2 linked regions of the Homo sapiens genome follow. The protein of the gene in region 1 purifies or fractionates together with the protein of each later gene. This does not show direct contact. Each region holds a gene or a part of one and is shown on either strand. Other genes may lie near its edges.

Region 1 (3,831 bases):
TGACAGTTCCATGATGGAAGCGGCCGGCCTGCAGAAGGCCACTACTTGACATCTGATTATCTTTGACCACCCCATATCTGCCATTTCATTAGTGCTATAAAAAGATGGGATTTTTGTGGAAAAGTCAGGAACATTTCTGCTGTACATGATTTAGAAGTTCTCCAAATTTTTCAAAGAGGTCCTCCACCCATTTTACATTTTTCATACAAAGTTGAACAATTTCCTCCTGTCCTAAATCTTCATTTTTTTTCTGCACCGAAGAAATCTAAAAAAAGAAAATCGCCAAATTAGCTTATACTTATCACATCATATTTAAGTTCAACTACAAGTACTGGTATTTTATTTTTTTCTTAATCCTATCCATGGAGAATGATTATTTCAGCTAAATTTGGGTGAGATCTCATCCTCTCATCTTTGGCTCCAAGGTGGCAGAAAGGAAGGCTAGAAAAAGTACTTCAGACTTTCTCCATTTCTTCCAATTACGTTAAAAGTCAAATGACAAATTTTGGAGTCGATTCTGCATTTTAGAGCATTGTAAAAACAGTGAACCTATGTTGCATCACCATCTTTGCTTTCTCTTTTGCTATATAAAGGTTAGATTTATGAGCATCTTTCCATACCAGACTACTGTCAAACACATTAGATATAGCCTTGGACCCTTTATAATGAAAAGAAGTGATAGTGCTGGTCAAATAAGGTAGTATTGTCTACAACCATTTAGCATGGCTGTGGAAATTAATGCTTATATCCCATCCATGAGGTGATATTTTGTCATGTATAATCTCTGAACAACTTAAAAGCTACAATTAAATTTTAACTTTCAGTTTTTCATGCCAAGGCACAAAACCCCACTTCTCTGCAATTAAGTGGGATAAGGCCATTCTAAGTAATAAGTAAGGCAGTGAGATGTCAAAGCAGTGACTGAAGTGAATTAAAGCAAGATCATCATACACTGTGAGAGAACAAAATGCAATAAAACATCATTTATTATGGCGATGTAAAGCAAGCACCAACAGCTTCAAAACATTACCAATTATAGCTCCTACAAGAGGTGGTGAGGCTCGGGTAAATCTGAGCACAAAACATAGCAGAGAGACTCAGAACAATAAATCAAGTCATTATTTACAGAATACATAGACAAAATACATACACACATGTATTTCACAACTCTCTTTAAAACACTCCAAAATACTATGGCTAGAGTCTCCTTAACATTCTGAAAAACATTTTTTTTAAGTAAATGAGAAGAAATTACCTCATCCTTACATATCAGATAAACATGGTACTTATAATGATGGAGTGAATGATACAAAGAATACAACTGTATTTTCTCTGGATCGACAGCAAACTCCTATAAAAAGAAAAAAGTTTATAGATACATTTCATGGAGTATCTGAGCTAAGAACACTTTGAGGAAAATACTAGATCAAAAGTCTCAATGGCAATGTTGAAAATGACATATATGGGTAGGTATTCAGTTGGGTTAATATGGAGAGACTTATTCAAAATAAGAATTTAAATTATATTTTAAAATCTTATTCTTTATCCTGCATATAAATATGCATTATTGAAAAAACTTAAGCATTATAGGAAAATTTAAACAATAAACATATGAGATGATTTATAAAATAAAAGCTCCCTATAATCTCCTGCTTCAGAGCTAAACAAAGCTAATGGCATGTTATATATTTTTTAATGTTTTCCCCCAGGTATAACATGTATGTTAATAACACTAATTTTGTAATGAGAAGGGAATCACACTATACATATTGTCTAGCAACTTTTCTTCTTTCTTCCAACGTGTTTTTTGACCTAACTAATAATTGGCTATCTTTTCATTTAGTACATATAGCTGTCCCTCCCCATCCTCCCCAAATACAAACTATATGAGGGTAAGGACTTTTAACCAGTTTTCACTGTTGTATCTCTAGTACTTAGAACTGTACTTGGCATACTATAGGCACTCAAAAAAATTTTTCTGAAAGAATGAACAAATCTATCTCTTCTTTATAAAAAGCACGTAGTATGACATTACGTGGCTCTTCATTTATCTAACCTCACACTGGTGGTACATAATTGGATTGCTCTTACAAACAATTCCACAATGAGCAAAGGTATGTATTTTTATGCATTTCTGAATCTATTTCTACAGAATACTTTTTTTTTTTTTTTTGAGACAGTGTCTCATTCTGTCACCCAGGCTGGAGTGCAGGGGTGCAATCACAGCTCACTGCAGTCTCAATTCCCTGGACTCAAGCGATCCTCCCACTCAGCTTCTCAAGTAGCTAGGACTACAGGTGCATGGCACCATGCCTGGCTAATTTTTTTTTCTCCCCCCAGGGTAGACATGGGGCCTTGCTTTGTTGCCAAGACTGGTCTCGAACACCTGGACTCAAGTGATCCTCCTGCCTCAGCCTCCCAAAGTGCTGGGATTATAGGCTTGAGCCATTGTGCTTAGCCCTGAATACATTTTTGCTGTGAAGTTGATATGTTGCCAAACTGTTTTCTGAAAAGGTTATAACAATTTATACTATGTTTGAAGATGAACAAATTCCAATTTTAATGACTTTGCAGATATGAAATAAACATTTCATCTTTTTATGGAATGTGTTCTGCACACTTACTTATCTATGTGCATGCATATACAATTAAAAATATACCTATATTACAAGTAATGCATATGTTAATGAGTTTGAATTAGCCATTTCACAATGTACACACATTTCAAAACATTTTGTACATAATATATGCAATTTAAAAAATGAAAAACTACCTACAAATATATAAACATGAGCACGAGATGATTTCTTCCATATTAGTCAATTTAAGAAATTTGTGAGCACATATTATATGCCTGATACTGTGCTATAGAAAAACAATAAACCACCATGCGTCCCTGTTCCTCAGGCCAGTGACGCTTATTCCTACCTGAAAAACCTTCACACTTAATGACAACATAGTAAAATATTTGCTTGTTTCAATGTTTTAAGTAGGAATTGTATTAACAATTGGAAAAGGTATAGTTACATTAATAATCAATTACACTTACTTGTGCAGATTTGGTGGTTGTTTTAGAAGTCCTTAGAGTTTTCTTATTATAGGCTTTGCCATTCATTTTGATTTTAGAAATAGCAGTTCCTCCACTCTTTGCTTTAGAATCTCGAGTAATTATTGTTAGTTCAGGAAAACTTTCCAAAGCATTCTGGAAAACAATGAAGCAAAATAACTGACACCAGAAGAAAACTAACCTAAACTACTTCTAGCTATCTAAAATTTAGAAGTGTGTGTGCACACAAACACCTATTTGCAGAGAGGTGTGTGTGCACACAAACACCTATTTGCAGAGAGGTGTGTGTGTACTGATGGGATATGCATACATATACATACACAGGTTGGGGTTTAAACATGGTCATAAGCTCTTTGCAGCCCTTCCTATTGGATATGTAATCTATTTCCCTTAAATCCCTTAAATCTGAGCCAACTCTATGACCTGCTTATTTAAGCAACAGCACACCACACTGGGAACCCTTAACAGGGCCAAGAGTTCTTTCTAGTAATGTCTCTGGCTTCAAGGCAGGAGAAAGGAAGACATACATGTTTCACTAAAGCCCTACCACTTAAACCACTGCTTGCCCCGTGAAATGTGGCTGGGCCTTGCTATAAAGAAGTCATCTGCCTCTGGTGAAGATGACGACAGAGGAGAAGCGGCACTGTAGTGCTTCTCTGGCTTCACTCTTCTCTTGCTTATTTTGACTGCAAGACAAGTACTTGTAAGATAAGATCCTAAAACAGAGCATGATGGGTTTTTTGACAGTGGTTATGTGGCAAAAC
Region 2 (3,831 bases), on another chromosome or scaffold:
GGAGTACATTTTTTATTCCATCAAGGTATATTTGTTTTATCAAGAGGTATCAATTCATAAGCATATTGATGGCAACATTTATAGCAAGATGTGCTCATCTATCCTCAAGCTTTTCTGTACTAATACTTAGGAAACTTGCTATTTCTTCCTATTTTTCAACTAGCAGGCTGTGAGGAATGCTGAATACTAACTTGGGGCCTGAACTTTCTAATCTGTTAAAGATTGAAGATTGGGATCTGATGATATTGAGGTAGCTTCCAGAATTAGAAATTTTTTTAACATTGAAACATCTAGAATCCTGTTAACATTGAGGTTGGTTACAAGTTCAAGAAGCCAGTTGGGAGAGGAATATTAAACAAATTCGGGAAGATTAAAATATTTTCCCCAAATCATGCAAATGACAAAGAAAAGTAATCTAATGTCTTTCATTCACCAGCCAACAATAAAAATGCATAGTACTTTTTAAGATCTCACCTAAATAGCACAGCCTTTTAAATACCTTTTATATGAAGGCAAAGAAAATACTTACTATGTTAAAACATGTAGTACACTCACTTTTTAATGCTGGTAACAAATAACAATAAATTCATTTCATTTAGCATTTTATGGTTTAGAAGAAAATCTGAGTAGACTCAAAGCAAATCAACTGGACCCTACTGCCCAGCTTCACACTTTGTTAGCTACCTGATTTGAAACAAGTCACTTAAATTTGACCTTCACTTTAATAAATTCTAAAGAAGGTTGGGCCAAGCATGATAGCTCATGCCTGTAATCCCAGCACTTTGGGTTGCTGAGGCAGGACGCTTGCTTAAGCCCAGGAGTTTCAGACCAACCTAGACAACATAGTGAGAATCCCACTCTACAAAACATTTAAAAACTAATTGGGCATGGTGAAGCACACCTGTAATGCCAGCTACTTGGGAGACCAAGGCAGGAGGATCGCTTACGCCTGGGAAGTCAGGGCTGTAGTGAGCCATGATCGCATCACTGCACTCCATCCTGGGTGGCAGAACAAGACCCCTTCTCTCCAAAAAATTAAATAAATAAATAAATAAATAAATGAGGGTTGATAATGCATGATCTATTTATTTCATAAGGTTGAGATTAGAATTATTTATTCATTGCAAAAGGTTTATTTAACACACTAGTGTTCCAAACACAGAGAATCCTTAGATGAATTGTTTATGCCTTTGAGGAGTTTAAGACTTTGTTGGGTGAGACAGATACATAAATAGCTACTAGAGCACAAATTAGTTGTGCCTACCCTAAACTGGGTTATAGTGAAAGTGGAAATAGCCTTCCAGCCTTGATGTGAGAGAGATCGTGTGGGGAGGAAGCCTTCTAGGGTGGGAAATGTGTTCAGGGTTGGGAGGTAGGGGATATTAGGTCCTCATGTGACATCTTTTCTTCATAAGGGCCAGCAGGCAGCATGGGTTACACAGACTGAGTAGAATTTTGACACTAAACTGAGAACAAAAGTATAATATTTTTGGAGAAAAATATTCACTTTAAATAGTTACTCGTGGCGAATATTCCTAGTCCCCTCTAGATAACTTCTTTTCACAAAAATACTGGGCCCGTATTTTTTTTTCTCCGTGTGTTATCCTATAAATACCAAGTGAAGAGTTTAATGGTTTATGTTTTCCTTGTTTGGTGAGGCTCGTATTCGTAGCCATTGTTTCTGCTGAAAGCATTATGAACTCCTAAATTAGTTAATGGAAAGGAAGAAGACAGTATGAGTTACTATAGCATGCATTTAATTAAAATTATGATTTTGTTGCATGTTAATAAGTTGCTTTTCTTTTTTAAATTTCATTTGAATTCTAGGCACATTCAAAGCAATAATCAACCTCCACAGCCTCCAGTTCCACCGTTAGGTTATGTGTCTGGAGCCTTGATTTCTGATTTGGAAACGGATGTTGCAGATGATGATGCCGACGACGAAGAGGAAGCTTTAGAAATCCCCAGGCCCCTGAGAGCACTGGACCAGACTCCTGGATCCAGCATGGACAATCTAGACAGCTCTGTGACAGGTAACGGAACCAATTTAATAGGAAAAACTGACCTATTGGTAACATTAAAATGCATCAAAAGTCAACTACTTCCTTATTGTAAGATTTATTCCACTCCATCTATTTCTGTAACATTTTAAATGTGTTAATATTAAATACAAAATTCAAAAAGGATTTGGAAATACTTTTGCTTTGCTGCAAAAATGATAAGAAAATTCATGAATTTTAAAAAGCTTTAAAGACATGAAAGAAAACTCAATTATATCTAGGGCTTTCATGAGAAGTTCACTCTACTAGGAAACCAAGTCTATTACATTAAAAACCTTGACTTTTAGAAATGATCTTTTTTATATATATCAGGAATAACATATGAAGTGAATGCAATCTTAAAATGCTTCTTGATATTTCACTCTGTAAAATCATTCACTGATGGAAAGTAAGCACGTCTCCTGAATAAGCCACTTTAAGGTTGCACAAGGTATTATTTTTAGAATGAAGAAAATGTGTAGTGAGATAAACCATATGTTTATGCATTTCACATTGCTGCATCTAGTAAATGCTTCTCTTCCAAGAAATGCAGTTATTTTTTCTGTTTATTTCTTTGGCTTCCTCTTGCCTTGTTCATCAAACGAAAGAGTTGCATTGGTACTCTTCTATGATGATCCCAGGACTAAGGTATAACCTATTTTCAGGGATTTAAATGTACCAATTTTTTTAAAGAAAACTTTAAATCCTAAAATGGACACAATGAATTTGGAGAAAACTAAAAATTCAGTCTTTCTATTCAAATAGATATACACTGTTGGACACACAAGAAAATGCCTCTTACATGACTGTGTAGACCGAGCTACTACAAACTGAAGTCTGGTCTCTGCATTTCACTGGGTCTTCTCAGAAGACCACTCATATCTGTATTTACCGTGATGACATCTTTCATCCTAGGAGATATTTTACCACAATCCCGCTTAATTCATTTTTATGCCAACAGCTTCCAAACTTTCACAGATTTTACACAATGTGTTAGAGTTCTACAAACACTGATGGGAACTGGTTTATGACAGGATAAAGCAGCATCAGCGCCTATGATTTTCCTCTGTATTCCTCCCTGAATTACTCAATGTGTGATGCATGAGCCCATTTTTCAGTTTTTCTTCTTATCCAGGGGCTGGTCTGCTTGCCAGCCTAATTAAGATTTAAGAGCTGCAGATACACCGCTGTGATTTGAAATCCAGATCCAACCGAAGGTGACAGAGCACAAGTTAAAATCTTCAAATGCAGAGAGCTGACTTATTAGTGCACTATTATGTTAAGCCCCTTTGCCTGAATTTCCAGCATAATCTCCTTCAGGGTAAAATTCTGCATATTTTTGCATATTTCACTAATGATACTGAACTCTTTTCCATTAGGAATGCAGTAACAAATTGCAATAATGATGAAAAACAGTCAGCTATAGTCTGTGTAGTTCTTTTATTAAATATTATAATGTCAAAGATGATAAATACGTCTATAAATCAAGAGAATGCCATTTTGCACTTTTACATGCTCACCTGTGACATGTTAGGCTGCCTGATGTGACTGCAGCTCAAGCAGTCTGTATTTCTCCTGTAGCTAGTGTAATGTTCATTCCAAATGAAGCTTTTATTGCTGAGAAAAAAAGTCTGGTTTTCTCCTTGAATTCACTGCTTAATTACTGCCATATATAAAAACCTCAGGGTGTTTAAGTTTGTATTCCATGATGAGTTTATCCTATGAATAATACATCTCTTTAGTAAAAGAAGTTGTGTTCTACACAAAAGTAGCCAAATACAAACTCACTTTT

The links.
Region 2: the proteins of QSER1 (region 1) and ROBO2 fractionate together in Homo sapiens (co-fractionation; one large-scale study listed by BioGRID). This does not show direct contact.

Annotation. Positions count from the first base shown.
Region 1 is NC_000011.10:32,972,768-32,976,598, reverse strand, and holds part of QSER1 (glutamine and serine-rich protein 1), read right to left. Parts: intron 3,203-3,831; coding exon 3,050-3,202; intron 1,352-3,049; coding exon 1,256-1,351; coding exon of another isoform or gene 1,043-1,255; exon of another isoform or gene 969-1,042; intron 266-968; coding exon 125-265; 3' UTR 1-124. UniProt on the Homo sapiens protein: Plays an essential role in the protection and maintenance of transcriptional and developmental programs.
Region 2 is NC_000003.12:77,620,400-77,624,230, forward strand, and holds part of ROBO2 (roundabout homolog 2 isoform 23 precursor), read left to right. Parts: intron 1-1,827; coding exon 1,828-2,033; intron 2,034-3,831. UniProt on the Homo sapiens protein: Receptor for SLIT2, and probably SLIT1, which are thought to act as molecular guidance cue in cellular migration, including axonal navigation at the ventral midline of the neural tube and projection of axons to different regions during neuronal development.